Homo sapiens: one gene and its partners. The protein of the gene in region 1 purifies or fractionates together with the protein of each later gene. This does not show direct contact. Each region holds a gene or a part of one and is shown in the gene's direction. Other genes may lie near its edges.

Region 1 (4,304 bases):
CGATCTTGGCTCACTGCAACCTCCACCTCCCGGGTTCAAGCGATTCTTCTGCCTCAGACTCCTGAGTAGCTGGGATTACAGGTGTGCACCATCACACCCGGCTAATTTTTGTATTTTTGGTAGAGATGGGGTTTCACCATCCTGGCCAGGCTGCTCTTGAACTCCTCACCTCATGATCCACCCACCTTGGCCTCCCAGAGTGCTGGGATTACAGGCGTGAGCCACTGTGCCCGGCCGCAAACTGTACGTTCTGTTTTATACTTTTATATTCAATAATATATCTTGGAAATTGTTTTTTTGTTTTCTTTTTTTGAGACAGGATTTTACTGTCTTGCCCAGGCCAGAATGTAGTGGCATGATCACAGTTCACTGCAGCCTCAACATCCCCGGGATCAGGTGATCCTCCTACCTCAGCTAGGACTGTAGGTGCATGCCACCATACCTGGCTATTTTTTTTTTTTTGTAGAGGTGGGGTTTTGCAGTGTTGCCCAGCTGGTCTCGAACTCCGGGGCTCAGGTGATCTGCCTGTCTCAACCTCCCAAAGTGTTAGGATTGCAGGCGTGAGCCACTGTGTCAGGCTGGAAATTGTTTTCGTATTATTCTATTAAGGGGCTTCCTTCATCTGTGTTTGCAGCTATCTATTTTGTTATAAAGAGACTATAATTTATTTAGTCAGCTTCCAAATGATGTATATGTAGGGCTGTTTTCAGTGTTTTGCTATTACAAGCTGTTCTGTAAGAACCAATCTTATACTCTGAGGTTTTAACAATGAAGATACTAAGATGACAGCAAGAGTAAGAAAAAAAAAAAAGCTGGACAAGATGGCTCACACCTGTAATCCCAGCACTTCAGGAGGCCAAGGTGGGCAGATCACCTGAGGTCGGGAGTTAGAGACCATCCTGGCCAACATGGAGAAACCCCATTTCCACTAAAAATACAAAATTAGTGAGGCATGGTGGCGCATGCCTGTAATCCCAGCTACTCGGGAGGCTGAGGCAGGAGAATCGCTTGAACCCGGGAGGCGGAGGTGGCGGTGAGCCGAGATCGTGCCATTGCACTGCAGCCTGGACAACAAGAGCGAAACTCCATCTCAAAAAAAAAAAAAAATGAGGTTAAGAGTGTAAGCAATTTGTGATGTTTGCAATGTGGATAGAGCAAAACAGGTGACTGTATGTCTGCATTGGCAATGGTGGGATAGAAGTGTATGCTAAAGTGGTAGCAGTGGTTATCTCTGTGGCAGAATTACTAGTAGTGGATTTTCTTCTATTTTTCTGCATTTTCTAAATTTCCATGATGGTTATTAGGTTACATTTATAATAAGGAAATAATATTTTTTAAAAAATCATATTTTTCTCTTTTTCTTGGAATATTGAGTAAATTCCCTACTTGTAGAAAGAGTTGGGGGAGTCTTTTTAAGTCTAATTAAGGACACTTAATGTCCTTAATTAGATATCTAGCAATGATTCCCATTATCCAATATTAATTTTATGTCATTGAACACTTTCAAGAGTTTTTTTCTAGCTAAGAAAAGTTAATAGGCCCACCGTGGTGGCTCACGCCTGTAATCCCAGCACTTTGGGAGGCAGAGGTGGGCGGATCACTTAAGGTCGGGAGTTTAAGACCAGCCTGACCAACATGGAAAAACCCCATCTCTAATAAAAATACGGATTAGCTGGGCATGGTGGCACATTCCTGTAATCCCAGCTACTCGGGAGGCTGAGGCAGGAGAATCACTTGAACCTGGGAAGCGGAGGTTGCAGTGAGCCGAGATCACGCCATTGTTCTCCAACCTGGGCAACAGAAGAAAACTCTGTCTCAACAACAACAGCAATAACAACAATACAGTCAATAAACCTCCAATTTGGGGATATGTACATGTGCAAGCAGGTAACTATTTGATTTATACCTACTATGATGCCTGCCTCACAATTAACAATTAAAATTTTTCTCAATTGCTTGCACATTTTCGTTTGTTTATTTGAGATAGGATCTGTCACCCAGGCTGGAGTGCAGTGGTGTGATTATAGCCCCTTGCAGCTTGGACCTCCTGGACTCAAGCAATCTTTCCACCTCAGCCTCCTGAGTAGCTGGGATTACAGGCACATGCCACCAAGCCCAGCTAATTTAAAAATTTTTCTTGTAGAGACGAGGTTGCACTATGTGGCCTAGGCTGGTCTAGAACTCCTTGGCTCAAATAATCCTCCTGCCTTGGCCACTCAAAGTGTTGGGATTGTAGGCATGAGCCACCACACCTAGCTTACACTTCTATTTTTTTTTTTAAAGCAGTTTACTCATTTATGTAGAGACTTTGGGGTAACTTTGGCTTTATTAATTCAATAAATGCTTATGGAGCATCTATCAGGTGCCGGGTAGTCTACTAGGTGATACTCGAGCTATAAGGCATAGTCCCTGTCCTCAAGGGATTTATAAGCTTATAAATTATACCTTAGAGTGGGAGATAAATAAACAGGTAATTATATCCAGCATAATCCAGCATGGTAAGTAATATGAGGGAGTAAACGGTAGGATGGTGGGCACATAGCTGGGATCCCCTAACCCAGCCTCATGAGTGCAGTCCAGGAAGGCCTCCAAGAGAAGGTTAGCCAAGGTAAGGTCCCAAATGGGACAAAGAGGAGAAGGAGTGGAGTGCTGGAAGTTGTTTTAAAGAAGGAAGAAGCCTGTGTGAAGGCTGAGAGGGTCTGGCTTATTTGGGAGGATTGCATTGCTTCAGCACAGCTGGAGGGTGCAGTGGTAGGGCAGATAGAGTGGAAAGAGAACCTCGGGAAGAGATTTTGTCTGACAAGGAGATTGGACTTTATTCTGAGAATAGCTACAGTAGGTATCCAAAATCCACAGGGTTATAAGCAAGGGGGTGACATCAGGGCAGAGATGGGAGGGCTGGAGAGGAGGAGGCAGGCCCTGCCAGGAAGAGGCAGGCCCTGCCAGGAAGAGGCTGTGCCAGCACTTCATCTCTAGGGATTAAGGTGCCCAGATTAAGGAGGGCCCAGGAGTGAGGTGCTGTGTCTGGTATGGTCCCTCATCCTAGCTAGCAGTGTGAGTGTGGCTAGAAAGACTGATGGCTGGGACAGCCACCTTTCCAGTTGGTCTGTGGTTTTAACTGGGATTTGTGAACCATCGTATTCGTGTGGTATGGTTCTATACTGTCCAGCTGCCTTTAATTAAAATAAACACCTTGTAGGATTATGGGTGACTTTAAAGTTTGTAAGTTTGTATTTAAAATACAATATTTTTGTTTGTTTTTTCTTTTCTTTTCTTTCTTTTTTTTTTTTTTTTTGATACAGGGTCTTACTCTGTTGTCCAGGCTGGAGTGCAGTGGTGCAATCCCAGGTCACTTCAGCCTCAATACCCTGGGCTCAAGCAGTTCTCCTCAGCCTCCCAAGTAGCTGGGACTACAGGCATATAACCAATCACACCTAACTAATTTTTAATTTTTTTTGTAGAGTCAGGGGTCTTGCCATGTTGATCCAAGTCTCAAACTGAGCTCAAGTGATTCTCCCGTCCCAGCATCCCAAAGTGCTGGACATTGTAGGCATGAGCCACTGCTCCTAGCTGATTTGTATTTTTAGTTTCTTATAGTGAATGTAAAGATTTGCGTAATTCATTTTATTTATTTATTTATTTTTTGAGGCGGAGTCTCCCTCTGTTGCCCAGGCTGGAGTGTAATGGCAGGATCTCGGCTCACTGCAACCTCTGCCTCCCGGGGTCAAGTGATTCTCCTGCCTCAGTCTCCTGAGTAGCTGGGATTACAGGCACCCGCCACCACGCCCGGCTAATTTTTGTTTTTTCAGTAGAGACAGGGTTTCACCATGTTGGCCAGGCTGATCTTGAACTCCCGACCTCAAGTCGGGAGTCCACCTGCCTTGGCCTCCCAAAGTGCTGGGATTACAGGAGTGAGCCACCACGCCCGGCCTGCATAATTCATTTATTCAACATATATATAATTATTAGAACTCCCCCTTCCCATCTTCCACCAATAAATGAGCCACCTTGTCTTGAATTCAGAGAAGTTGGCCCAGGGATTCGTCAGGTAACATAAAGAATATGTGAGGCCAGGCGTGGTGGCTCACTCCTGTAATCCCAGCACTTTGGGAGGCCAAGGTGGATGGATCACTTGAGGTCAGGAGTTTGAGACCAGCCTGGGCAACGTGGTGAAACTCCTTCTCTACTAAAAATAAAAAATTAGCTGGGCATGGTGGTGCGTGCCTGTAATCCCAGCTACTCAGGAGGGTGGGGCTCGAGGATTGCTTGAACTCGGGAGGTGCAGTTGCAGTGAGCTGAGATTG
Region 2 (4,304 bases), on another chromosome or scaffold:
CCTTATGGCTGCGCTCTCTGCCTCCTTCCTACCTTCTCAAATGCTGCTGAGGTCAGGCAAGGGGAGCACAGTTGTTTCCGCTGGATTTGAACACTAGCAAGTCATTGGTGAGTTTAGCAGAGCAATTTCAATGGAAAGGTGAGAGTAGAAGCCAGATTGTTGTAGACTCCAGAGTAAAGGAACTGGAAATTAAGAACATGATCAACTTATTTAAGAAGGACCCCCGGGAAGAGAGGAGAACTGATAGGTAGAGTAGGACCTGGACTTTGAGAGCCTGTGTTTTTTTCATATGAGAACAACTTGAATGTGTCATATGTTGAATCACCAGGAAGAAGGGATTAAAGATAAAGGCAGGGAGGGGGCAGTGAAACAGGATCCCTGAGGAAGTGAGAATACGGGTTGTGGGCAGGGGAGGGGAGCAGGTTAGCCTTGCAGCAGGAGGAGCTGCTCTTCCTCGGAGAGAGGATTTCACAACACTGGCAAGAGTGGCTCCAGTGCCTGGAGCGGGGATTAAAGCAGTAAGTCCAGTGGGGTCCAAGGGCCATGCAGGGGTACAGTGAGGAGAAAGCAGGTGTGATCCGGGTGGCACATCAGATCCTTCCAGCAACCAGTCTGTTAGGAGCAAGGGCAGATGTTGTGAGCCCCTATGTTTCCCCCAAGAAAATCAAACCTCTGAGAGGTTTCTCACTTGCTTATCTTCAGCTGGCCGAACTCAGCCTCAAACCCATATGTCCTGTCTCCAAGTTCAGTGACTGTTATCATCAACTTCTTCAACAGTAATAATAATAGATCACATTTATGGAGTGCTTGCCAGGGCATGTTTACATCATTATCTCATTTAACACTCAGAACAATCCTCTGTGGTGGGTGTTTTCATCGTTCCCATTTTGCAGGTGAAAAAACTGAGACTTCAAAAGGTTAAGTGACTTCCCAGGGTCCTACGACCTACATAATAAGTGGCAGAGCCAGGATTCAAACCTAGGTTATCAGAATAATGCAGCAAAGCCCAAACCCTCAGCCCCTTTTCACTGACTGGTAAGACCCATATTTAATTCGATGCCCTACATGCCGTGCACAAGTTTCAGTTTTCTGAAGCATCGCTTAGATGCTTAGGTGTTTAGCACCACTCTGAACTCTGACTTTTCTAGAGAGGCTGCTAAAGGCATTAGAAAGTTTCTGAAGTATAATGGAAAAACCCTGCTGGAGTAAGTGCCTGGCACACTCAGGATTATCAGTGTGATTCTTTATAATAAACAGGCTCCCAGCACCAAGCCCAATCTATTCCATCAGCTGGATAAGAGCTCTCTGGCAGGCCTTGGGCCAAGCTGGCTTCCTTTGCCTCAGCAGAAGAGCATTCTGATTCTCTCTGCCATCCCCAAAACTGACAGGAGCAGAGAGAAACAAGGCAGAGGCATGAAGGGAATGTCCTCTGCGGCAGATGGTGCTTCCGGAAGAGCTCCCACAATCTGAGCTAGAATGAACAGGGGCTAGATCCAAGTCTCATATAGGCATACTTCTGCTTGACAGAGTGGGCATGCCGAGGGCCGTTGGGTGGAGGCAGGCGTGTGCAACCCAAGCAGACATGAGACGCAGCTCCTTCAAGGCAAGGTTGCCTGAGCCCAGAGAGGCTCAAATTTGTGCCCCAACTTCCTCTGTGGCTTTTGGGTGGGGCTCTTCAGAATCGAAACACACTCAGAGGGCTGCTGAAAGGGCTAAGAAGTGTTCAAGGTTGGCTTCCATCAGGCTGCTCATGACAATGGCCCCTGAGGTTTTAACACCCTTGAACGCTTGGTACTAAATCAATTAGAGGCAGGGCAGGAGCAGAAAGAGTTGGCGCATTTGATCAGTAAGTTCCAATGCCAGTGCTGTCTATTATCTGTGAACTGTGTTAACTTTGGACACGTCACTTCACCTTTTTGAGCTGTTTCCTCGTCTGTAAAAGGGGGATAATACCCATTCCATGAGGTAAAGCTTTGAGCACAGTCTCTGATGTAAGCAGGTACAGAATATATAGATGCTGTAAGTTTCATGGTCCCATGGAAGAATTCAAAAGGGTTAGATCCCGCCTGCCCTCAAAAGGGTATGTGTTAGGAAATCAGAGTAATACCTAAGTAGTAAATTGCAGAGTCCAGAGACTCTGGGACTCAGACTTGAAGGGATGAGTGAGGATTGGACTAGGACGACTTCACGGAGGAGGTGACAATGAGCCTCAAGGTATGATGCAATATGGAAAAGGAGGGAAGAGAGTGGGAAAGGAAGGAATTTCATGCAAGCAAAACAACTTGCATGCAGTAACAGAGGAGAGAGGATGCTAACCCAGTGGATAGGGTGGCTCTAGAGTGTGGATGGTCTCCACGTCTGGCAGAAAAGGCTGGACTTGCTGCTGTGGCCCCCGGGACACAGCACAATGAAGGAGGCTCCAGGCAGTCCAGAGTGTGCAGGGTCCAATGCCTGCCCTTCTCAGACAGGACCACCCATCCACCCATCAGGGCCCAGGGAGCAGGGGTCAGAAGGACCTCATGACACAGAGTTCTGACTGTGATGACACACTTTCCCCAGAGGGGAGGGGAAGGGGAGAAGGGGTTAGAAGACCCCACTGAGAATGGAGGCATCCTAGCTGCAGAAGCACCTGGCTGGTAGGCTAACAGCACTTTGTGGGTCTCGTTCCCAGGAGATCTGCGCTGACCCCCAGTTTATCATTGGAGGAGCCACCCGCACAGACATCTGCCAAGGAGCCCTGGGTAAGTGATAGATTCAGAGCAAGCTGGGGGATCTTGTCTGTAAGGCTGTGGGTGGAAGAGATGAGGGACAACCTGTGGCTTCTCTCCCTTCCCAAGCAGCTTGGCAATTTCTATTTGCAGAGAAGCTCCATGGAATTTCTTGGCCCTAGCGGGCAATGATTCTACCCTCAGCCCCATGCTGGGGCACACAAATGAGGCCTCCTGTGTCCCCTGCACAGGGCTAGTTGCTGAGGTTACAGAGATGCTGCCACTAGGAGGACCAGGGGGCTTCTGGATGTCAGCCACCCCTTGGTATGCACCTCCTGGAGCCAGCATTACCAGTGGTTCACGAAATACACTCTGGGCAGAGGACTAGGTGGGAGGACTCCCCCAGACCAATGACAGCACTGAGACATCAGTTCTGTGAGGTTCAGGAACCAGGGAAGGTGACTCAGTGTAAAGAAAGAGGAAACTCTAATGCTCGCTGCTGAAGGAAGTTATAGTACCAGGGCATTCTCAGTGTTTGCAAGACAAGCTCACCATGGTATCACAGTTGTAACGCTCATTTAAGTAAAATGAACTGGAGTAGCTGAATTGTCCAAAACCTTGCTTTCTGGAGCCGAGTTCAGATTTGTTTCTGGAGATAGTCCTTGTTGAAGGTTTCAACCCACAGGGTTCTCCACCTTTAGTATGAAAATTCCCAAAGCTTCTAGGAAGTCCCAGCAATGGGGCCTGGCGCTGTTATCTAAGATTCTCATAGAATCTGCCCTCAATGTTCTTTTACTCATAATAAATGTGGGCCTATAATTACTAGAGCAGATTATTTGCTCTGATAAACCAAAAATCTATTTTCTGCCATCAGCCTCAGCTGGCTGGCTCCCCAGACAAGTTCATCAGTAGCAAAATCAGTCAACTAGAGTTGTACCTCCTGTCCTCACCCACCTAGCAGAGGTTCTGTTACTCATATACTCCTAATACCAGCTGATAACAGCTAATATGTATCTCTAAGGCACCGTGATTATTCCCATTTTATAGATGAGGATGCAGAGGTCTTCCTACAGCTAAAGTGGTGGCTGGTACCCCTGACCCCAGGGTATGTTTAATTCCTGAGCTAGACTCCCTAAGACGGGACCTGGAAAATTTTCTAGCCCTGAGGAATGTCAGAGCATCATGTGAATCATTAGGACAGACAGACTGTGAGGAAGAACATGAGCTGGGCGGGAAAGTTTGTCTGAGCTCAGGCTCTGCAGATTCCTGAGATGCCAGAGCACATTCTTACCTGCAGAAAACACTCCTTTCATTTCTTTTCTTCTCGCCCCACAAAAGACAGAAGATAGAGGTCCTTGAGCACCCAAGGCGGATCCTCCAGGAAAATCTATTCATTAGAGAAAATGGAATTGATGGAAACTTTGACCAACCCCGGGGGCTTTAGAGAATCCAGAAACAGCCGGCGCAGTGGCTCACATCTGTAATCCCAGCACTTTGGGAGGCCGAGGCAGGCAGATCACCTGAGGTCAGGAGTTAGAGACCAGCCTGGCCAACATGGTCAAACCCTGTCTCTACTAAAAATACAAAAAAATTAGC
Region 3 (4,304 bases), on another chromosome or scaffold:
ATAAATTTTTGAAATTTTTTTCTATTTCATCTGCATTTTCAAATGTATTGACATAAAGTTATTCATAATATTCACAATATTCTCAATTTTTAAAAAATTTCAGCTAAATCTATATCCTTTTTGGCCCCAATAGTATTTATGTATGCTCTCTCTCATTGTCTTGATCTGTCTTGCCAGAAATTATTAGTCTTTTCAAAGAGTTATCTTTTGGCTTTGTTATGCCTTTCCAGTGTGTGTGTGTGTGTGTGTGTGTGTGTGTGTGTGTGTATAGACATATACAAATATAATAAAACAAATTTTTTTATTTTTAAATGCTGCTTTTATCTTTGTTATCACTTTTCTGCCTCTAATACAAATCTAATTAAGTGTTCTAGCTAAACGAAGGAAAACAAGCTAAAGCCAGTTTCCTGTGCCAACCAAACTGATCTGTGCCTAAATATTAGTTACATTTAGAAAATTACACTGTATAGTTGTTGCATTATTTTGTATTTTCTGAAACATTTTCTGTTAGTCTCTTTACTAATCTAGGACTTTCTGTTACAAGGGCAACTCTTAACTCTCACTAGCTTAAGCAAAAAAGGGAATATATTGGCTTGTATGGTTGAGAAGTCAGGTGTGGCTGAGTGCAGATATTCAGTGATGTCATTAGGAATCTCAGCCACATTTTCTTCTAGATCTGCTTCATCCTTACGTAGCCTTTCCCAGTGTAGTGGCACAATGGCCACCAGCCAGGCCAGCCAGGCTTATGTCTTGTAAGCCTAGCGCCTCAGAGAAAAAGAACCCAGCCCCAAGGGCTACAGCACAAGTTCCAGGATTGACTATTTCAGCCTGTGCCCACCCCCACAACTGGTCACTATGTGTGTGTGGAGTGGAGGGATCATTATTCAATGCCAGTCAACCTACATGGGCTAAGAATGAGGGAGAGGTGGTTCCCTGACAAAAGGGGTACATGAGTATATCAAAGAGAGAGATATGAAGAGAATGAAGGGAGGGTAGGGGATGGATAAATGAAGAGAGTCATGTTAGTAGAAAAGGGAGTTGCTGGGCAGGCGAGAACACCTAATGTCCCCTGGGTCTTAGTAAATGTTGAATTGACTCAACAAAAGAGCAAAGGAAAAGCTAATGGGAGTGGAAGTATTAAAAGTTCATTGAAAGGAAAACTGGGCAGAGAGATCATCACAGTGATAACTTCCTTTCTACCTGGGGTAGTTCCATCATCTGCTTGGTAGTACCATAGGAGCACGAAACACGTTTCCGTGCTCTACCTTCTGTTTCAACCAACTGAAATTTCACTTTTAAAGAGATATCCTTTCATTGTGATATGTTTCTCCAGGATTCCCAGAAACGTCTGTAGCCACTAGTCACATGTAGCTATTTAAAGTTAAGTATAAATTAATTCAAATTAAATAAATTTAAGGACTCAACTTCTCAGTTATGCTAGCCACATTTCAAGTGCTCATTAGGCACATGTGGCTACCAGGTTGGACAGCTCAGATATGGAACATTTGTATCATCACAGAAAGTTCTATTGGACAGTACTGACTTAGAGCAGTAAGCTGTTATCAGCAATTTGTTGTTATTAGGTGTCTTTCTAGTGACCATTACTCAGAATTGAATGAGAAATGTTGATTATGACAGAAGAAATGAGAGAAGCTGCCTGGGACCATCTGTTGGCCCTATTTTCACTTCTTTAAAGCATTTCAGCTCCCTTAGGACTTTGCAGTGGATCTCCAGATGGGATAGTCTCTGCCATCACAGAGCTGGAATTCCTGATGATCCCTTTGAAACAAGCCCAGAGAGACATCCAGGGACTGTAGCCCAGGAGCCACCTGAGAGCAGTGGTGCTTGGGAGAGGGGGAGCTTGAGAGGCTGTTGGTGTCAGAGTCCTTGAGGAATGTATTGTCTAAGGCAGTCAGTGCTCATTGTTGTCAGGTGTCATAAATTTCTATCCCTTGTCATGTACTTGATCATCTTTTAATGTTATATAAGTCAGATAAAAACTGATTTTTTTCCTTTTTCATTTTATTCTGCAGACCTATCCCTCTTTGTTCTGTTGTTATGATAAATAGCCAACTTGATAAAGTTGAAGGAAGGAAATTTTTTGTTTCCTGTAATGTTCAGAGTGTTGATGAGAAGACCCTATACTCAGAGGCGACAAGTAAGAAGCTGGTCTTATCTCTTTCTTGGGGTTTAGTTGGGTTGGGTTGGGAGTTTTGGTTGGTTGGTTGGTTGGTTGATTTGGGTTTTGTGGGGGTCAGGGGGGTGTTTTGGTTTGGTTTGGTTTTTTGCCCTGGTATTATAACCCATACATGCCAAAAAATTCTTAATTCCCTGTCATACAAAGAACAAGTTAAAGATATTCTTATACATTGCTAGTAAAGGGCAAGTTGCCAACAGCTATCAAAATTACAGCCCAATGCATAAGCTCATGCCTGTAGTCCCCGCACTTTGGTAGGCTAAGGTGGGAGGATCACTTGAGCCCAGGAGTTCGAGACCAGCCTTGGCAACATGGCAAGACCCCATCTCTACAAAAAATACAAAAAATTAGCGGGGCATGGTAGTGTGCGCCTGTAGTCCCAGCTACTTGGGAGGCTGAGATGGGAGGCTCCCTTGAACCCAGGAGACAGAGGTTGCAGTGAGCTGAGATCGCACCTCTGCACTCCAGCCTGGGTGACAGAGCCAGACCCTGTCTCAAAAAAAAAAAAAAAATTTACAAAGTGATATGCCCTTTGACCCACCTCCAGGACTTTATCTCACAGGTATAATAACTGCAAAATTATAATGTGTTAGATTGCTATCGGGTTCCAGTGATTGTGTCACTCATGCAACATTATTTGCAATAGCAAGAAAAATGGCAAAACGTAGCAAACATAGCTATCCATCAATAGGAGACTGGTTAAAGAACTACAGCTCACCTATGAACTATATTGTATGTGTGTGCCATTAAAAAATGGTGAAATATTGTGATACCATAAATAAGAAAAATATGTCTATATTTATGTGTGTGTAGACTGTCTCAGGAAAGTCACACACATGACCTGTTACTTCCCTGGAGTACTGAGGTTCATCCATGTTGTTGGCTGTGTTCACTTGTTTGTACCACTGTGTAATACTCCATATGTGACTGTCCCACAATGAATGTCTCTCTTCCAGTGACAGGCCTCTGACTATTACAAATGGGGCTGCTATAAACATTCTTGTTCATGTCTCCTGGTGGTGTGCATGGGCAAGAGCTTGGCATATACTTAGGAACAGAATTTCTGGGTGGTAGAGTATTGTGAGTATTCAGCTTTACAGAGGAATGCAAAATTGTTTTCTAAGCCTGTACCAAATTAAACTCCCACCAGCAATATATGAGATTCTTTAGATTCCCATCTTCTCTAGCAATTAGTGAAGTCAGACTTCATGATTTTTGCCAGTCAAATGACTATAAAATGACTTCTCGGTGTGATCTTGATTTGCATTTCTCTGATTACCTGTGTGGTTGAGTGTCTCTTCATATGTTTATTGACCATATTTTTTCCCATTCTGTGAAATTTTTGTTTGTTCAGCTTTTTTTCCATTTGTTCTCATTTTCTTACTGATTTATAGATGTTCTTTATATATTTTCTATTAGAACAATTTTTTGTTGGATATATAAGTTGCACATACCTCCTTACAGTGTGTAAGTTGTCTTTTATTTGCTTTAAGGTATCTTCTTTATGAACAGAAATTTTTAATGTCAATTTAGTTGCATTTATTACATTTTTCCCTTTATGGCTAATTTTTTTGTATCTTGTTTAAGAAATTTATTTTTCCTCTTAAGTATGAAGCATTTGCAGGAATGATGGATTTAAGGAGCAGGTGGAAGATAATAACTTAAATCCACAGTCAATTTAAGAACTCCATTCCAGGCTGTGGTTTGTACTTCCTGTCTCACTAAACCTTTCAATATCATAAAGGTGCCAGATGGCTCACTTGTAATTTTAGTTCTTTTCATTTCTAATGGAAGTAGTGAGGAACCATGAAATGGCCAAGTGGTGAGGACCTGGTTACCCAGGGAGAAGTAATACAGTATTGTGATAGTCAAAAGCTGATTCTTAATTTGGCTGAAAAATGAGAGTGGACAGATAGACTGAAGCTACAAATGTGAATCAAATCCTTCTTTTGTATATGTCTTTCTATTTAGAGTAGTCCATCAAATTGAAGTCAGTTGACATATAATCATCTGCTGTTATTTTGTTTGTTTAGGCTTATTTATAAAGCTGAATCCTGCTAAAAGTCTGACATAAAGAGCTGCTGGTGAACTCCATCTCATTCTCGCC
Region 4 (4,304 bases), on another chromosome or scaffold:
TTAAATGATTCTCCTCCCTTGGCCTCCCGAGTAGCTGGGATTACAGGCATGCACCACCATGCCCGGCTAATTTTTGTATTTTTAGTAGAGACGGGGCTTCACCATGTTGGCCAGGCTGGTCTTGAACTCCTGACCTCAGGTGATCTGCCTGCCTCAGTCTCCCAAAGTGCTGGGATTACAGGCATGAGTCACCGTGCCCGGCCTCCTCTCTCTTCTTAGCCACTGTTTTCCCCCGTAAGCCTGAAGCAGTTCCTGGCACTTGTTCCCATGGGGAAGCGTCTGTGTAAGGGTATGCTTCACCAGCACTGCCAAGGAAGTAGACTTTTCACTTTCTCTGGATTTTTCTCTGCAACACCCTCTGATCCCATTGCCCCCAGAATAGTAGGAATTTTGAGTGATACCTAGATAGGAAAGCTCTTAGGATTAATGAAGAAACTGAGATTTTCTTGGTGGGAGTTTGTGCTTTTAAAGGGAGTTGTTGCAATTCAATGGAACTCTGTAATAACCACTGAAACTGTTACACATTAGGCTTACTGACCCTATCTCCTATAACCCATGAAATAAAGACCTGATAGTCACATAGTTGTTTGCTATTTGGGAGGATCCTAAAAGTACAGCCTGAACAGTGACCCAAACCACAGCTGGCCTTGCCCATGCTGATGTGAGGAAGGAATGGGTGGGGGCAACTAAGAAATTGGGGGACAGAGTTCTCTGTGCTAGGTATCCTAGGACAAGCCACCCAGCCACACAGAGACCCCCCGCTTCCCCCCCACAGAACAGTTCTGGATGATAAAATGCCTGCCTGGAATGGAGAATCAGATGAGAAGATGTTTGCAAAGGGGTTTGAGATCAGTTAGCGGGTGGTGATGACAATGTTGATACCGTGGGTGTGTGACTGCCAGGAGCTGTGAAGCAGAGGGTGGAGTGTGCGGTGGTCAAAGCCTGGTTCTGGGATCTCTAGCTTTCCAGGGGCTTAGGCTCCGCCTTAGCAGAAAAGAAGGAAAGGAAATTGAGAAGGAAGTCAGGTGTCCCCTGCCCCTCACACTTGGGGATGGCTGACTTGGAGGACATGAGATGGGGGAAATCTGAGTGAGGGCAGAGAAGAGAAATGTGGAGGCTGCTCACAGGGAGGCTAGGGAGCATATGGCATATCCAGCCTGGGGAGTGGCACCACTGGGGGAAAGGGTGCGTGTGACAGTGGGGAAGGAGTGGTGATAACAGATGTGAGCTTGCTGTGTCCACTAAAAAGGTCACGGCTATTTTTAGGAAGTAGGTGACAAGGCATGTTCCTGTAGAACTGCTTATTACTGAGAACCCACTGTTGGCCTCGCCCTGCGTGGTGTGCTTAAAAGGAGAGACCGCCCCCACTCACCCTAGAGTCATCCACCTGGTGTCCCTGAGACATGGGACACTGGATGAGGACCAGGTTTGGAGGATGAAGAAGATCATGTATTTGGTTTTGGACATGTTGTGTTTGAGGTGTCTTTGAGATACCAAATAAGCTGGTGGGTCTGGGGCTCAGGAGGCGTCTTGGCTAGACAGACATTTGTCTAGGTTGTGTTTGTATTTGAAGTCATGGGCACAGCGAGATTGAAGAACTCACCTCGAACAGCTGAGTAAAGGAAGATGAGCCTATAAAGGACCCAGAAAAAGAGCGACCTGAGAGGGGCCCAGAAAGCCAGGACAGAGTTGTATCCCAGGGGCCAGGGTGAGTCTGCTTCGTGGGATGGAGTGGTCAGCTTGGCATCGCGGCTGTGGTGAGTGATATGGAGGAGATGTGGCTGCCTTCACTGCTTTGGTGGGATGATGTGAGCAGAAGCGAGGTTGGAGTGAATGGGTGAGGAGTAGCAGGACGTGAGGATCTGATGATAGACAGGCTCTGAAATGTTGGCTTTGAAGGCGAAGAGGACGTCGTTGAGGGAGTGTTTGATTCTGTTGCCTCGATTTACCCTCCTGCTCCCTTTCCAATCCCAGAAGGGAACATGTGGATGGCCTGCCACTGACATCCCTCCCCACGGCGCTCCGTGCTCAGGCAGACCTAGGTACCTGCAAGGGTTTGCTTCTTTCACAAAGTGGATTCATTCTCATGAATGAATGAATGAGTGAATGAAGCATGTTGCCCAGGTTGGTCTCAAAGCCCTGGCCTCAAGCAATCCCCCCGCCCCGCCTCAGCCTCCCAAAGTGCTGGGATTACAGGAGTGAACCACTGCACCTGGCTGGTATTAAATTTTCTTTGTGGCCAACTGCATGATAAATATTAACATGTTTCATGGGCGTGAAAGGAGAAAATAGGTCCTCTGCGGGACGCTGACTTTAGATAGATCTCTTAACTTCAGTTACCCTTATATCCCTGCTTGCCTGGCTGTCAGATTCTGAGAGGTATAACAAAAACTCTCACTGTAGTTTTTTAAAGTCCAGCTCTACTTATATTTGTGGGAGTTCTAGCCTTTTGAGTTTGGCTTTCGTGTTTCATGTATATAGGCTTATCAAGCTGATCTTCCTACCTGTCATTTGCTGGTTATTTAATGCCTTTGGTCTTTGGTCTTAAATTCCATATTGTCTGTGTTTTAGGAGAATACATGGCCAAGGATCTGGGAGAATCTCTTTTCTTTACAGTCTTAAAATTAATAAATAAGTGCATTTTATAAGATAATAAGTGAAAGGCTCAGAAATTTAAATGCAGGCATCAGAGGACATTCAAGCCATGCCCCTTTAGCTTCTGTTCAGGCTCACATGGAGCGGTTAGTAATCAGGTCTCACTGATGACCATGAGCTCCCTGTCCTTGGCTGTCCTAATGGTTCCCATGATAGCCAGATTTTTAGGAGGGGTGGATAAAATGAGATTTGCGTGCAAACTCCTGGGACGTTGCCTGGGAACCTCTTCTCTCACTTTGCAATTCCTGCCCCTTCCTGTAGGTCCAAGAAGCGGACTGCTCTGCCTCTCATTTACGCATTTCCTTCCTCATTCCAGACAGCAAGATGAGTTTTTGACAGAGTAGCCAGTACAAACACTTCTCAGGGCCAGAAGTCAGAAAGACGCGGGCCCCAAGTCATAAGCTCATCTCTGTGCTTGTGTTTTAAGCCACATAAACTGTCTCAGCGGGCTGGACTAGGCTATGCCTTGTTGTACCCTGAGATCCTAGTGAGTAGTTCTCCAAGTACTGTGTTTACAGATAAAGGCAAATGCCAGAGAGAAATGGCTGGAAAAACCCCTTGGCTTGCTAAGGCAGGATTATCGAAAAGTCTTCAACATATATGTTTTTAAATTTTACATATTTTTTCATTTTTATTTATTTTGAGACCAGACTAATTTTTGTATTTTTGGTAGAGATGGGGTTTTGCCATGTTGCCCAGGCTGGTCTCAAACTCCTGGGCTCAAGTAATCTGCCCACCTCAGCTTCCCAAAGTGCTGGGATTACGGACATGAGCCACTGCACCCAGCCAACCACTGTGCCCAGCCTATTTTTACTATTAATATTTCCACCTCTGTTTTTCTTTGCATTTATTTGGTATGTCTTTGCCCAACCCTTAGTTTTAAATATTTCTTTCTCACTTAAAAAAGTTTATCTTGGCTGGGCGCGGTAGCTCACGCCTGTAATCCCAGCACTTTAGGAGGCCGAGGCGGGCAGATCACGAGGTCAGGAGATAGAGACCATCCTGGCTAACACGGTGAAATCCCGCCTCTACTAAAAATATAAAAAATTATCCAGGCGTGGTAGCGGGCGCCTATAGTCCCAGCTACTCGGGAGGCTGAGGCAGGAGAATGGCATGAACCCGGGAGGCGGAGCTTGCAGTGGAGCCGAGATCGTGCCACTGCACTCCAGCCTGGACGACAGATCAAGACTTGGTCTCAAAAAAAAAAAAAAAAAAAGTTTATCTTGAAGATGGAATCTTCGTAAATAAAATTTGTTTCTCTTATAATCAGAACGTGGTTGAGGGTGGATGGAGGTTGACAGAAGGCAATGATAACAGCAACAAACCTAATTGCATGGTTTCTGTCTTTGGTAGAGGAATTCTGACTGTTGACATACCAGATATACTTGATTTTATTCTTTGCATCTTGCTTATTACTTATTATACTTGCATGCATTCCTTTCCTGATTTTTGCTGTTGGGTTAAGTTTCTCATCGTCATCTTCCCCACGCCACCTGTATTACGTTTCAGGTTTGGTTGTGAATGAAGAGAGGAGCCCCGTCTCTCTCTCTCTCTCTCTCTCACTCACTCTCTCACTCTTTCTTGAAAAATCAGGGTCGAGGTTAAGTGTGTGTTCCATGAGATTGTCTTGGCACCAGGCTCCTTATGGA
Region 5 (4,304 bases), on another chromosome or scaffold:
CTTGTCCTCTAGTTTCTTTCTCTCCACCCATCTTATACTTCTGGCCAGAAGGTAGAATGGTTTTTAAGCATTTACCTGGATATTTAGGAAGAATAAAACCATCTCCTTGAGGGTTTTCTTTTTTTCCTTAAAGGCTCAGACATGACTTTGGGTCAACTAGAAATAGAATCCTACCGGAGAAAATTATACAAAGGAAAAAGTTATTTCCTCTCAAAATTGAAAAGGAGAAGGAAATGTAGGATATCAGAAAGTACTTCTCTTATGCATTTCTTTTTTAAAAAGTGTAGACAGGCAGCTTGAAAATTCTGCTTCATTATACATTCTCAGTATCTGTTTTCCTGACAAATTTTATAGATTAAAAATATTTCAGAGTGTAGTTTATATATAGCTTCCAGTCCTTTTTCTTTATTTTCTTTATGATTAATTTTAACAACTGACCCTTAAACATGGACAAAGACTTTCTAAACATAAAAGCAAAGAAAAATAATGCAGAGAATCAATAAATGTGACTGCATATGTATGTATACATGGATTATCCTCTAACTTCATTGGTTAGCCTTCTAATGAAATCAGGAAAACCTGGTTAGAAATTGTTTGAATGTCTTCTGTGAAATAATTATTTTTCTCCCTATTCTAGGAGTCTATGAACTAGCTGTTTTTCAGATGAAACCTGGTGGGCCAGCTCTGTGGGGTGATGCATTTGAAAGAGCAATTAATGCCCATGTCAATTTAGGCTACACAAAAGTAGTTGGTGTTTTCCACACAGAATATGGAGAACTCAACAGAGGTACAGTTGTCCATTTGTTCTATGAAGTTGCCATGTGTATTAGATCAGTTCGTCTCTCTTTTTCATTTTGGTACCTGTTTTAATTTTTATCTCCAAATTTTTAGAGTTTGTTGTTTATAGGATTGAAAAAATCTATAAGCATCTTATTTTACATCTTATTTTTTTAGAATGTTAATACTTTATGGAGCCTTTTTCAAATGCTGAACTGGTGTTTGTTTTTTAACTTTTATTTTAGGTTCACGGGGTACATGTGAAGATTTGTTACTTAGGTAAACCCATGTCATGGGGGTTTGTTGTACAGATTATTTAATCACTCAGGTATTAAGCCCAGTACCCAATTGTTATCTTTTCTAATCCTCTCCCTCCTCCCATCTTCCATTCTCAAGTAGACCCCAGTGTCTGTTGTTTCCTTCTTTGTGTTCATAAATTCTCATCATTTAGCTCCCGTTTATAAGTGAGAACATGTGGTATCTGGTTTTCTTTTCCTCTGTTGGTTTGCTGAGGATAATAGCCTCTAGCTACATCCATGTTCCCACAAAAGTTATAATCTGGTTCTTTTTTATGGCTGCATGGTATTCCATGGTGTGTATGTACCACATTTTCTTTATCCAATCTGTTGTTGGTGGGCATATAGGTTTTCATGAAAAGATTCCAAGTTTTTGCTATTGTGAATAGTGCTGCAGTGAACATTCACGTGCACATGTCTTTATGGTAAAATGATTTATATTTCTCTGGGTATATATCCAGTAATGGGATTGTTGGGTCGAATGGCAGTTCTGCTTTTAGCTCTTTGAGGAATCACCATACTGCTTTCCATAATGGTTGAACTAATTTACACTCCCACCAACAGGGTGTAAGTGTTCCCTTTTTTTCACAACCTCACCAGCATCTGTTATTTTTTGACTTTTTAGTAACAGGCATTCTGACTGGTGTGAGATGGTATCTAATTGTGGTTTATATTTGCATTCTCTAATGATCAGTGATATTGAGCATTTTCTCATAAGTTTGTTGGTCTCATATATGTCTTCTTTAGAAAAGTGACTATTCATGCCCTTTACCTACTTTTTAATGGGATTCTTTTTTTCTCTTATAAACTTGTTTAAGTTCCTTATAGAGGCTGGATATTAGGCCTTTGTCAGATGCGTAGTTTGCAAAAATTTTCTCCCATTCTGGAGGTTGTCTGTTTACTCTGTTGACAGTTTTTTTTTTGTTTTTTTTTTTGCTGTGCAGAAGCTCTTAAGTGTAATTAGATACCATTTGTCAATTTTTGTTTTTATCATGATTGTTTTTGGTGTCTTTGTCATTCAAAATTAATATCATTGACATAGAAAATTCTCACATTGTTGCAGCATTTTAAAAAATCTGTTACTAAGTATAATATACACTAAGACCCTAATTTGGTTTACTAATTTTTTTTAAAGGAAACACACCATATGTTGATAAAGGTTTATCTAGGCAGTTAAGATTATACTAACTTTTATTTTTTCTTTGTATCACCTAAATTTTCTACAGTAAACAATTTTTTATAATCTGCTTTTTTTAAAAAATAAAACATAGTAGGAAGTCATTAAACTCGGGTCTAGTCTTAATTGTGCCTTAAGCTGTGTTTCTTTGCATTCTCTCTTCAGCCTTATGTTTCCAGTTTAACTTATAAATTTATCTTCCAAATTTCTGATCCCTCTGAAATCTTATAACTAACATATTTAGTTTTACCTTTTGATTTTGATTTAAAGAATAAGACAACATTTCTGATTCACTTTTTCAATATTTCTTATTTGCTATTGCCATATATTTCAGAAACTACTTGTGGTTTATTTCTGCAGTTCATGTTCTTTGGTGGAATGAGAGTGCAGATAGTCGTGCAGCTGGGAGACATAAGTCCCATGAGGATCCCAGAGTTGTGGCGGCTGGTAAGCTGTTTCACTAAGCACGAATTATTTTTAGAACAAATGTGATTCAACCAATAACTGTATGCCTTCTTATGAAATGTTTTTCCAGTTCGGGAAAGTGTCAACTACCTAGTTTCTCAGCAGAATATGCTTCTGATTCCTGCATCATTTTCACCATTGAAATAGTTTTCTACTGAAATACAAAACATTTCATTAACTGCTCTAAGATGTGTCTGCTAATGGTGCTTAAATTCTCCCAAGAGGTTCTCGCTTTTATTTGAAGGAGGTGGTAAGTTAATTAGTTAATTTGCTGTGCTTCTTGCATTTTTGAAAGTTACATATTCTCCACTGCTTTAAGAAATAATTCAGTTCACTTTCACCTTGGCATTTCAGTATCTGTTACACATTAGAAGTAGTTGTCACTATTTCATCATCTTGGTTTTTCATTTGTTTTAGAATACCTCTTCTGTATTTTGATAACTCATTGCTTTATAGCATTTTCTTTTACTCAAATAAGGATTTTACATTTCCTTGCCTGACAGTATTTTTGAATTATTTATATAAAATATCTATCTTTTCATCATGTCTATAGTTCCTGAGATTTTAAAAAAATTTGCTTAGTAAAGGTTATTTTGTGATATAAAATGGGATTTATAAAAATATTAGATTGTTTATTTCTTTACTGTGGAAAAGTACAATGTCATCTGTATTAATTATTGCTTTTACATTCATTGATTATTAGTCATTCTAACTTGGAAAATAATGCAATTGGGTCACAGTGTTAAAAATCTAGAAAAGACTTGTTGGTTTATATGCTGAAATTGTTCATTTATAATTAATTTTACTAATTTCTACTTAGTTTGGATCACTAACAGAGATCTTGGGACATTTATTTGTTTTAAAGAAATATTTATGGTTATGGAAACGCTTGCCCTAATAAAAATCCTGCATATTCATTGTTTTTTTAAATTCACATTTTATACTTATATGATCTCTAAAGCTCTTGCTATGTTGCTATAAGACAGTAATATAGTGATAATTTACCAACTTTATTGAAAATGTTGTTACATCAATAAAATAGCATGCTGGGAACCTGAGAAGGAAGGTTTCTTTAGTACTGCCACAGATGTCCTGGAGTTTTCCTTGAAACATCTTTCATTTCCATTTTACTTGATGCCTCTACCTACTAAAACTAGATTTGGTACTTCCGATAGTGTATATTTACAGCTATATTATATTTACATTTTTACAGACTATCTTCTGATAATCTGTATTTACAGCTATGTTATTTTATATTTTTAAAATCTTACAGCTATAAAATAGTAAATTGTGAATTAGCTGTCCAAGGGCAATTTGGAAAACAAACTGTACAGTTTCCTCTCATTTATCAGGCTCTAAGCGATCTGCAGTTTATCTGGGCTATTATGCAATGTGAGATATTATTTATGAGAGGCAGGCAGTGGCAGCTTAAACAGACATACCTCCTCAGCATTCTTTTCCATGCAGAGTTCAAAGAGGCCTAAGACATCTCACATTTATGTGAAATAGTTGAGGCACAAGTATGTGGTTAACTACACATAAATTACCAATAAAATTAAAAGTTAACTAAAATACTACAGAAGACATTT
Region 6 (4,304 bases), on another chromosome or scaffold:
AATTTCTGTGGCAGTTTTCATAACAAGTGTGTCTAAAGGTGTTTGATCAGAATTTATAAATTAAAATATTTCTCTCATTTTTTGGAGGGGCGATGCAGGGAGAGGGATAGACTGTTGCTGCTTCCTCCTGCTTGTTAGAAAGGCTCTTGGCCATATCATATTGGTCCGTGGTTTAGTTTATTTGCATGCTGAATCCACACACATTTGTTTTATGTTTGTTAGTATATTGAGCAGTGTATTAGGGATCAGGTATATAGATGTAAAAGGAGTACACAGTCTAGAGAGGAAAAATAGTGACAGGCTGGGCGCGGTGGCTCACGCCTATAATCCCAGCACTTTGGGAGGCCAAGATGGGCGGATTTCTTGAGGTCAGGAGTTTGAGATCATCAGCCTGGCCAACATGATGGAACCCTGTCTTTACTAAAAATACAAAAATTAGCTGGGTGTGGTGGTGGTCGCCTGTAATCCCAACTACTTGGGAGGCTGAGACGGGAGAATTGCTTGAACCCGGGAGGAGGTGGAGGTTACAGTGAGCTGAGACCATGCCACTGCACTCCAGCCTGGGCAATAGAGCGAGACTCCATCTCAAAAAAAAAAAAAAAAAAAAAAAAAAAGAAAAACAGTGACATAAACAGGCAATTACAATATTTTGTTATATGGGGCACAAGAAGATGCCCTTGGCCCTGCTTCATGAGTGGTGTGGGGCAGGGTAGAGAGAGCAGTTCAGGAGAGGTACGTATGGATGTCATGGGAGCTAGCAGCCAGGAAGATGTAAACATGTTAACAAGGACCTCTCCAGAGAGAGGTCTTAAAATTATCCAGCCATAGAGAAGCTTTTCTCTCTTTAAAAATATTCTGGCTCTAAAGTTATTCATTGAGTTAAAAACAATAATTGCAAGTTGGAGGAAATCTCTTTGCCTGTCCTTACGTGTTACATGTAACAAGTAAACCTGTGCCACAACACTGACATCTCTGCAAAGTTACTTAAGTTTTCTGAGTTTGTAGTATCGCCCATTAAATGGGATTAATAATATTGATCTCTGGATTATTGACAGGCTTAAGTGAGATAACTTGCGTGGTCCGTTTTCTAGCCCCACCCTCTCATTTCATCTAGTAAATCTTCATTGCATTAATTATTTTCATCTTAAATACACCGCATCCTGCTCCTCACCTTCTAATATTAATACTCTATCTTTCAGTTTAGATCAGTTCCTCTTATCCAATGTTGCGCTAAACATCCCCTGAAGTTGGGGGATCTTTTCCTTTCTAGTTTTTGCTCCCTGGCTTCCCTTTTCTGTTGCTGACTGTTGAAGCTTTCCTGCCCCACTGGCTTTGAAGGTAAATTGTATATACATGAGCTTGTGGGGAAAGCTGTTATATAAATGAGGACAATTGATCTAACTGTTAGAGTGGGGAAATGGAAGAGATTCTGAAGCCTCCATTTGTAACTTAAAAACTCAGGTTTCATTTCTTAACAGGATTGATGTTAAGGAGGGGATTCCTTCATTGGGCAGGAGGGAGGACTGCCATAATTCCAGCATTCCCACTCTTAATAGTCAGTGTCATCAGGAAAGACCACCTCAAGCTTTAGTACTTTATTCATTTATCCAACTCTGCACCTGCTGCCTTTGGGTGTGGTATTTATTCTTGACCATATCACCCTGACCCGGTAACCAGAAGGGAACATGTGATGTGCTCTCATCTCTGCCTTAGGGGCAGCTCCCTCCCCACGTTAAGAATGCTGGCATGTAAATAACACTCTCATCTGTTTAGCGTTCCTTTTACTGAGCTTCTTGGTATCTTTTCTCATACTTGTACCTTTTATGGGATGTCCCCCCCTTTTTTTTTTTGAGACGGAGTTTCGCTGCTGTTGCCCAGGCTGGAGTGCAATGGCACGATCTCAGCTCACCGCAACCTCCGCCTGCTGGGTTCAAGCGATTCTCCTGCCTCAGCCTCCCGAGTAGCTGGGACTACAGTCACCCCTCCACTGCACCTGGTACTAATTTTGTATTTTTAGTAGAGACAGGGTTTCTCCATGTTGGTCAGGCTGGTCTCGAACTCCTGATCTCAGGTGATCCACCTGCTGCAGCCTCCCGAAGTGTTGGGATTACAGGTGTGAGCCACCGCGCCCAGCCTGGATGTCCCTTTATTTTTTAAAGGCTTCCTTAAATACCTTGTTTGTAAGTTGAAAAGAGCATTTAAAGAGTGAACAGATTTGGTTTGCTCTGGCTCTCTAATTATTTTAACTTTGTTATCACCCAATAGTTCTAGGTTAGTGGTTTTCAATCCTAGCTTGAACAGGAGTCATTTAAAAATAGCCCAGGCCTCACCCAGGGCACTTCTATCAGACATCTCTAGGGGGGATGGCCCAGGCATCAGGAGGCTTTAAAAAGCTCCTCAGGTGATTTTAGTGCATTGCCAAGGTTGAAAACCAAGGCTTTAGGTTTAAACTAAAGGTGAAATTGCTCTTTTTCTGGTTCATTTTCTACTTTAGAAAGTAGAAATTTTTTTTCTGGTTCATTTTCTACTTTAAATTAAAAATAAACCTACAGAGGGTAACACGTATTAGCACGTCACAGAGGGTCACACGTATTAGCAACATATGTATCTTCAAAAGAGTGATGTGACTGGGTGGTAAGTGTTGATTGGACCCTTAAACTGTGACAGTTTAGAAGGGGCTTTGCTAGATGGGTTTAGGGACAGAGATGGTAGAGTGAGAGAGTGTGGATGGAGGAGTATGCATCTGTCATGATTACTAGAAAAATAAAACTTCAAATGCTTTGCTCCTTCTGCTGCGAGGTCATGTTCTCACAGCCAGTGAAGTGACAGCATATATGTGTTGAATGTGTGGCTTGCATTTTACATTTAACTCTTTTAATTCATGTGTTAACCTTAGGAGGTACTTATTATTCTATTTTGCAGATGAAAATGGAGACTCATAAATAAGTAACTTACCAGCAGCTACATAGCTGGTAATTGGTAGAACTGGAAGTTGGACCCAGGCTCTAGTGCTGGCACTCATAGTTTCTCCCTGCTGCCATGTTGGCCTCTTCCTACTTGGATGAAGATATAACTCTAGTGGCAAGGGCATTTACTAGTGTGTGAGAGGGTCTTGTTTATTAGTTTTGCAAATTGCACGGTCTCCTTTATTCAATATCTTTTTTCAAACAGCTCACAGATCTTTTGTGGTTTTGTAAGTGCCTACTCCCCACCGTATTGCCTTCTAGAGAAGAGGCAGGAATTTATTTTAATGTACAGGACAGACATGCATGGGGAGTAAAACTACAGACTCCACTCTAGGTGTGTGGAAATACTAAAAATAGTGCTTTTCTCTGTGTGTGAAGTTGGTCTGTTGAGTTTTGTCATAGACAGCGTTGAGTTCCTCTCCCAGGTGGAGGTGGCGTAGCTTTGCGTCACTTACGTGTCTCTCCTGATTTCCAGTGACCCGGGGAAGACACTGCAGAGGCAGTTGTCTGTGGTCAAAAGTATTCTCTGACCATGGAACTAGATGAAGCTATGAGCTTCCAGGATCATGTGGGGCTAGAAGAATGCCGCTCTAACCCTAGAGGAGGGACAGCTGAGTGTCTTCTGATGTAACTGAAATTGGAGAATCAGGTGGATTAAAATTAATTATTTATTACAGTAAAATAACCTATCCCATTTCAGAGACATTTGCTATCTTTAAAACATTAATACTATAATCCACCTTACCAGTAACAGTTTACTTTTAGTGACAGTGAAAGCCATTGACTTTTTTTTTTTAATTGAAAAGAGATGTTGCAAATAGCTGGTGTACATTTCTTGAGATGCACTAAACAAGGTAGCGCACTTGAAGATCGTGGCAGTAATAAAGCGTTTGTAAGTTCTGAGTAAAGTATTGACCAGCACAGCTTCCCTGGAGACCGTCTTCTCATTGCTGGATTGGACATTTCACTGTTAAGCTTGTAGGACGCTTTTGGGCACCTCTCTGACTGGGAGCTTTGCAGAACCCAGTGGCTTTCTCTGGAGCAGGTGCTGAGCACATTTTCAGGCTCCAAAATCATCTTTCTGCTCTTCAGAGCAAGTTTCTTAGCAGATTAGTGTTGAGATTTGTCAAGGGTTTCTGGGGCATCACTAAAAGTTTCAGGCAATGGCCCATCCTGTCAGATTTTAGTACTTTGGACACAGGAAATTAAAAAAGAGGGCAGATGGTATAAACATTGCAAAGCTATGTACCCGTGACAGTGTAAATGAAAGGTTTGATTGTGCTAACTCTCCTGCACTTTCTTTCTGTGTTCCTGTAGAAAGCTGATGTCCTGACCACT
Region 7 (4,304 bases), on another chromosome or scaffold:
AATTGGCTTCTTTCTCAGCCAGGCTCTCAGAAGCTGGCAGCAAAGATGGCTCCCAGTGCTCCATAACTCTCCCTCAGCAGCCCCATAAATCCCTTCAAATGATTCTCATTGACCCTGCTTGGGTCACATGTCTATGCCCATGCCAGCCACTGAGCAAGAATCATATGGTATAGGAGACATACAGTTTCTTAATGGAAGAAGGGACACTGAGTCAAAACATGCCTACCAGAAAGATGCAACCTTATTGAAACAAAAATAAACTGTTACTTAGTCAATAGAAATTAATCGTTATTTTCCTTGTTTGTCCAAATGCAGTGCCAATTCATTCATTAATTCTGCAGCCAAGCAAGAAGCAATGTTTTATCATTATTTATTTATTTATCTACCTGCGCATTCATGTATTCATTCATTCATTTTGCTAGCCACTGTGAAATTTCATGTCATATTTCTTCTCACCTTCAGCCAGCTCTATCTGTACACAGACTCCTTTTTCTGATGTCTTTAAAGCAAGTTGTACTCCATGGGAAGGGTGGGCATTTTGTCCCCCAGGGAACATTTTTAGTCATCACAACTTGGAGGCTATGCTACTGGCGTGGATAATGCTAAACTACAACGCACAGGATGGTCCCTGTTCACAGAGAACGACCTCACCCAATCTGTCCATAGTCTAGAGATTAAGAATTCTTGCTTTGGGGCATCTTCATCAGTTGGAAGCTGAAATCCATTCACTGGGCCAAAGGAATGAGATCCAATTTGAAGCAGTGACTATCTGGCTAAGATTCCGTGAGAATTAAAGCTGGGTGATCCACAGTTAACTGGCACATCAAATTCCTTTCTTTCTTCGGATTGATTTCCCTAAATAACCACCCCGTTGCTTCTTGTTAGCAAGTGCCCATGTTGTTGGTGGGTGTTTCTCTGTTTCTGTCTTTATACACAAGACTCTATTTTCAAGAACATTTTCGGTTCTCTACCTCCCCCAACCCCCCTACCCACCCCATACCTATTTTCTCTTTTCACAGCCACTAAAAAAAAGTTCTAAAAAGTATACAACTCTCAGAACATCAATATTTAATGGGAAGTGGGACTAATTTGAAAGTATCAGCATTTTAAGGCCATTTTGGCAAGGCGTGTTTCAATAGTACATTATGGTTATTTATCACAAATCAAACGCAGTACGTTGCTTGAAGACAGATTATTTTTCAAACTAATTATGATAGTCTTATTTCCTGCTGTTTTATGTTCCTTTTATGTGTAAGTTTCCCCTCTGAAATGTATTCTTCTTTTGTTTAATTCTGTGACACATTCTTCTGTTAAAATTCTAGGGTCAGAGGCCTCTAACTGCCAGTCATGTTTTCTATCGAGATTGTTGAATTAGCAGCTCACAGAATCTCACGCCACTAAACAAAACAACAAAACACCCTATGCATATAAGTACCACAGCTTTCTTTGATATTCGTTCAGAAGGAAAATACATTTGTATAATCTATCAAGCATGTAACAATGTGCTTTTGATGGTGAAAATTGTTTTATAAATATTAATAGGTATGTTTCTTTCACCCACTTTGTATAAAAAATGGCCTTTGTTCAAGATGAATTTTCTTTAGAATTGAGTTTCATTAATGTGACGTTGACAATCTTAAGGTCCGGACCAAGCTCAGCACCTCTGAAAATGCATTTTGTATTGTTTGTTGTTTTATTAAATGAGAAAGCTAAGGGTTTAAGCAGGCAAGTTTATTTTATCGCCCTGCTGTTGACATAGACATCAATCCATTTTTAACACGTCAATTCAAGAAGTGCATTTAGAAGCGTCTTACAGGAGGAAATAAGCATGTAAGAGTCAGTTAGTATTCCAGGATTAATCTACTCCTTTTGCGTAGCCACAGGTTTTTATTTATTTTCTTTGTTATTTTACTTTTTTTTTGGTTTTCATGTTAATGGAATGCACTTTTTCTAAGTTTCTCCTTCACTATAAAATATGACACCTGTGTATCTATCACTTGGTTCACACAAGTGGATACAAGTGTGAGAACTGTGACTTAGCAGGGATTGGCAAACTTTTTCTGTCAAGGACCAGTTAGTAAATATTTGGGGGTTTGCGGGCCATACAGTCTGTATTGCAACTACTCACCTCTGCTTTTGTCTTGGGAAGGCAGCCATAGGCAATATGAACGAGGCTATGTTCCAATCTGTTATTCATAAAAATAGGGCTGGCTTGAGGGTCTTAGTTGCTACCCTTTGCTTAGATCTTCATTTGGAGCTATTCTGTACCAATCTTTAGCCTTGGCCTTATGCACAGGTGTGATGTGATTTGAGAGTCACCAACAGCCTATTTTACCCTTATCTTTTAGCCAAAAATCTTGTTTTCTACTATTTATGATGCCTAAAATGCCAACTATTAATATTCTTCCTTTGGGAAAATTCTTATTCATTCAGAAGATGGCTTTTTATTGAAAACCATGGGTAACCTGTACATATGTAAACTATGGGAGACATTTGCTTAGATTTGCTCTAAACAGAAATCTCAGATTATAAAGGAACAGATAATTTTTATTGTTAGGAAGAGAGGAGAGTTCTGTAGCCTGGGCTACAATAATGGGAAGCTCTTAAGTATAAAAAAGCATGTGCATATTAGAGGGTGGTGTGGTCGTCTAACAACCTGCTAGTACCCACTGTCTAGGAAGCTAAGCGCTTTGCATACAATCTCTCCTGCCACCAACACCTAGAGTAGAACATACTCTGATCCCCATTGTATAGACAAGGCTCGGGTTTAAGAGAGGTTAATGTGCTTAAGGATAGCTGGCTAGGAAGTGCCAGGAGTTGTCATTTATACCCTGATATTTTTGATGCCAGTCTATATTAAGTGGTCAGGTTCAAGGAAAATCATTTAGATGGCACAACATTGTAGATAGTAAGATAGGAAAGCACTTTGTTTGTTTGGTACTATGTATAATAGGGAAAAACAAACATTTTTCTCCTACCAAACTCTCAACACAGAAGAACACTTCTTGGACCAGATGTGTGAGTTTTTCCAACACTGACTAATCTCTGACACTAGCTAGGTATCCTATGATTCAATTCAATTCTTTTACCATCTACCTGGAATTAGAGTCAGATCCCATAGGTTAAGGGGTCAGTCTTATCAGACTGACTCCACTTTGGATGTCATTTGTAAGACCAAGCCTCTGGTACTTCTGATGAACCAGCTGTAAATTGGGGGTTCTTAGGACTCCCTCCTTGTGCCCCATCATTTACTAGAATGGCTCTCAGAACCCAGGGAAGCACTTTACTTACTACTGCTGATTTATTATAAAGGTTATTTTATTTTTTATCTTATTTTTTTATAAAGGATATTTTAAATGATACAAAGGAATAGCCAGATGAAGAGGTATATGGGGCAGGGTATGCATGAAGGGGTGACAAGCTTCCCTGTACTCCACAGGTGAGCCACCCTGTAGCACCTCCCTGTGTTTGGCAACCTGTAAGCTCTCCAGTCCCCTGGAGTTGAGAAATTTTTATGGAGGCTTTATTACATAGGGATGATCTGTTATTCTTTCTGGAGCATGGAGGTGGGGCTGAAATTTCCAAGCTTCTAATCATAGTTTGGTCTTTCTGGCGACCAGCCCCATACAGAAGCCTCCACCAAGACTTACCTTAATAGAACAAAAGACTCTCCTATCTCCCAGAAAATCCCAAGGGATTAGGAGCTCTGCATCAGGAATCAGGGTCAAAGGCCAAATGTTAGAACACAAGATTCTCCTAGCACCCCTATTGCTTAGGAAATCACAAGGGTTTTAGAGCTCTATGCTAGGAATTAGGGATGAAGACCAAAATAATATATTTATTATAAATCACAGTATCACAGACTACTTTTAAAATATAAAACAGGCGTAACAAATATGTGTCTGAAAGAATCCCTTTACATCCTTAAAGTTTTTCTTCCCTTACCCACTAAGTAAAGACTGGGGTCTTGAAGGTGGCAGTTCAATTTGAATCCCCTTTCTTAAGTCCTAAGTCCTCTAAATAAATTACTTCATATTTAGGTAGTGTTTTTAACTTCCCAAAACACTTAGACATACATGCAATGATCCAATTAGGTTGTTTAGTTTTCTCTACAAATTAACAGTCGGCACAGGACCGTTGTAGATATACACCCCTTTTATCCCATAGTCACCATCTTGAAGCTCTGGGTTAACTGCAAAGTTCTGTCAAGATTGTTCCCTGGAGAGAACGTCATACCACAGAAAAACATCCTCTGAAAATCTAGCTTTGCAGGCATTTAGTTGGGATTGCCTTTTGAACTTTGA

What was found.
Region 2: the proteins of ALDH7A1 (region 1) and CAPN2 fractionate together in Homo sapiens (co-fractionation; one large-scale study listed by BioGRID). This does not show direct contact.
Region 3: the proteins of ALDH7A1 (region 1) and THEM4 fractionate together in Homo sapiens (co-fractionation; one large-scale study listed by BioGRID). This does not show direct contact.
Region 4: the proteins of ALDH7A1 (region 1) and ANXA11 fractionate together in Homo sapiens (co-fractionation; one large-scale study listed by BioGRID). This does not show direct contact.
Region 5: the proteins of ALDH7A1 (region 1) and NIPSNAP3B fractionate together in Homo sapiens (co-fractionation; one large-scale study listed by BioGRID). This does not show direct contact.
Region 6: the proteins of ALDH7A1 (region 1) and CAT fractionate together in Homo sapiens (co-fractionation; one large-scale study listed by BioGRID). This does not show direct contact.
Region 7: the proteins of ALDH7A1 (region 1) and SUCLG2 purify together in Homo sapiens (affinity purification with mass spectrometry; 2 studies listed by BioGRID, with this or other methods). This does not show direct contact.

What each region holds. Positions count from the first base shown.
Region 1 is NC_000005.10:126,577,630-126,581,933, reverse strand, and holds part of ALDH7A1 (alpha-aminoadipic semialdehyde dehydrogenase isoform 1 precursor), read left to right. Parts: intron 1-4,304.
Region 2 is NC_000001.11:223,715,091-223,719,394, forward strand, and holds part of CAPN2 (calpain-2 catalytic subunit), read left to right. Parts: intron 1-2,671; coding exon 2,672-2,741; intron 2,742-4,304. UniProt on the Homo sapiens protein: Calcium-regulated non-lysosomal thiol-protease which catalyzes limited proteolysis of substrates involved in cytoskeletal remodeling and signal transduction. Proteolytically cleaves MYOC at 'Arg-226'.
Region 3 is NC_000001.11:151,874,855-151,879,158, reverse strand, and holds part of THEM4 (acyl-coenzyme A thioesterase THEM4), read left to right. Parts: intron 1-2,033; coding exon 2,034-2,158; intron 2,159-4,230; coding exon 4,231-4,271; 3' UTR 4,272-4,304. UniProt on the Homo sapiens protein: Has acyl-CoA thioesterase activity towards medium and long-chain (C14 to C18) fatty acyl-CoA substrates, and probably plays a role in mitochondrial fatty acid metabolism. Plays a role in the apoptotic process, possibly via its regulation of AKT1 activity.
Region 4 is NC_000010.11:80,198,663-80,202,966, reverse strand, and holds part of ANXA11 (annexin A11), read left to right. Parts: intron 1-1,573; exon of another isoform or gene 1,574-1,708; intron 1,709-4,304. UniProt on the Homo sapiens protein: Binds specifically to calcyclin in a calcium-dependent manner. Required for midbody formation and completion of the terminal phase of cytokinesis.
Region 5 is NC_000009.12:104,770,212-104,774,515, forward strand, and holds part of NIPSNAP3B (protein NipSnap homolog 3B), read left to right. Parts: intron 1-637; coding exon 638-787; intron 788-1,022; coding exon of another isoform or gene 1,023-1,060; exon of another isoform or gene 1,061-1,105; intron 1,106-2,610; coding exon 2,611-2,697; intron 2,698-2,785; coding exon 2,786-2,862; 3' UTR 2,863-4,304.
Region 6 is NC_000011.10:34,444,909-34,449,212, forward strand, and holds part of CAT (catalase), read left to right. Parts: intron 1-4,283; coding exon 4,284-4,304. UniProt on the Homo sapiens protein: Catalyzes the degradation of hydrogen peroxide (H(2)O(2)) generated by peroxisomal oxidases to water and oxygen, thereby protecting cells from the toxic effects of hydrogen peroxide.
Region 7 is NC_000003.12:67,500,936-67,505,239, reverse strand, and holds part of SUCLG2 (succinate--CoA ligase [GDP-forming] subunit beta, mitochondrial isoform 2 precursor), read left to right. Parts: intron 1-4,304. UniProt on the Homo sapiens protein: GTP-specific succinyl-CoA synthetase functions in the citric acid cycle (TCA), coupling the hydrolysis of succinyl-CoA to the synthesis of GTP and thus represents the only step of substrate-level phosphorylation in the TCA.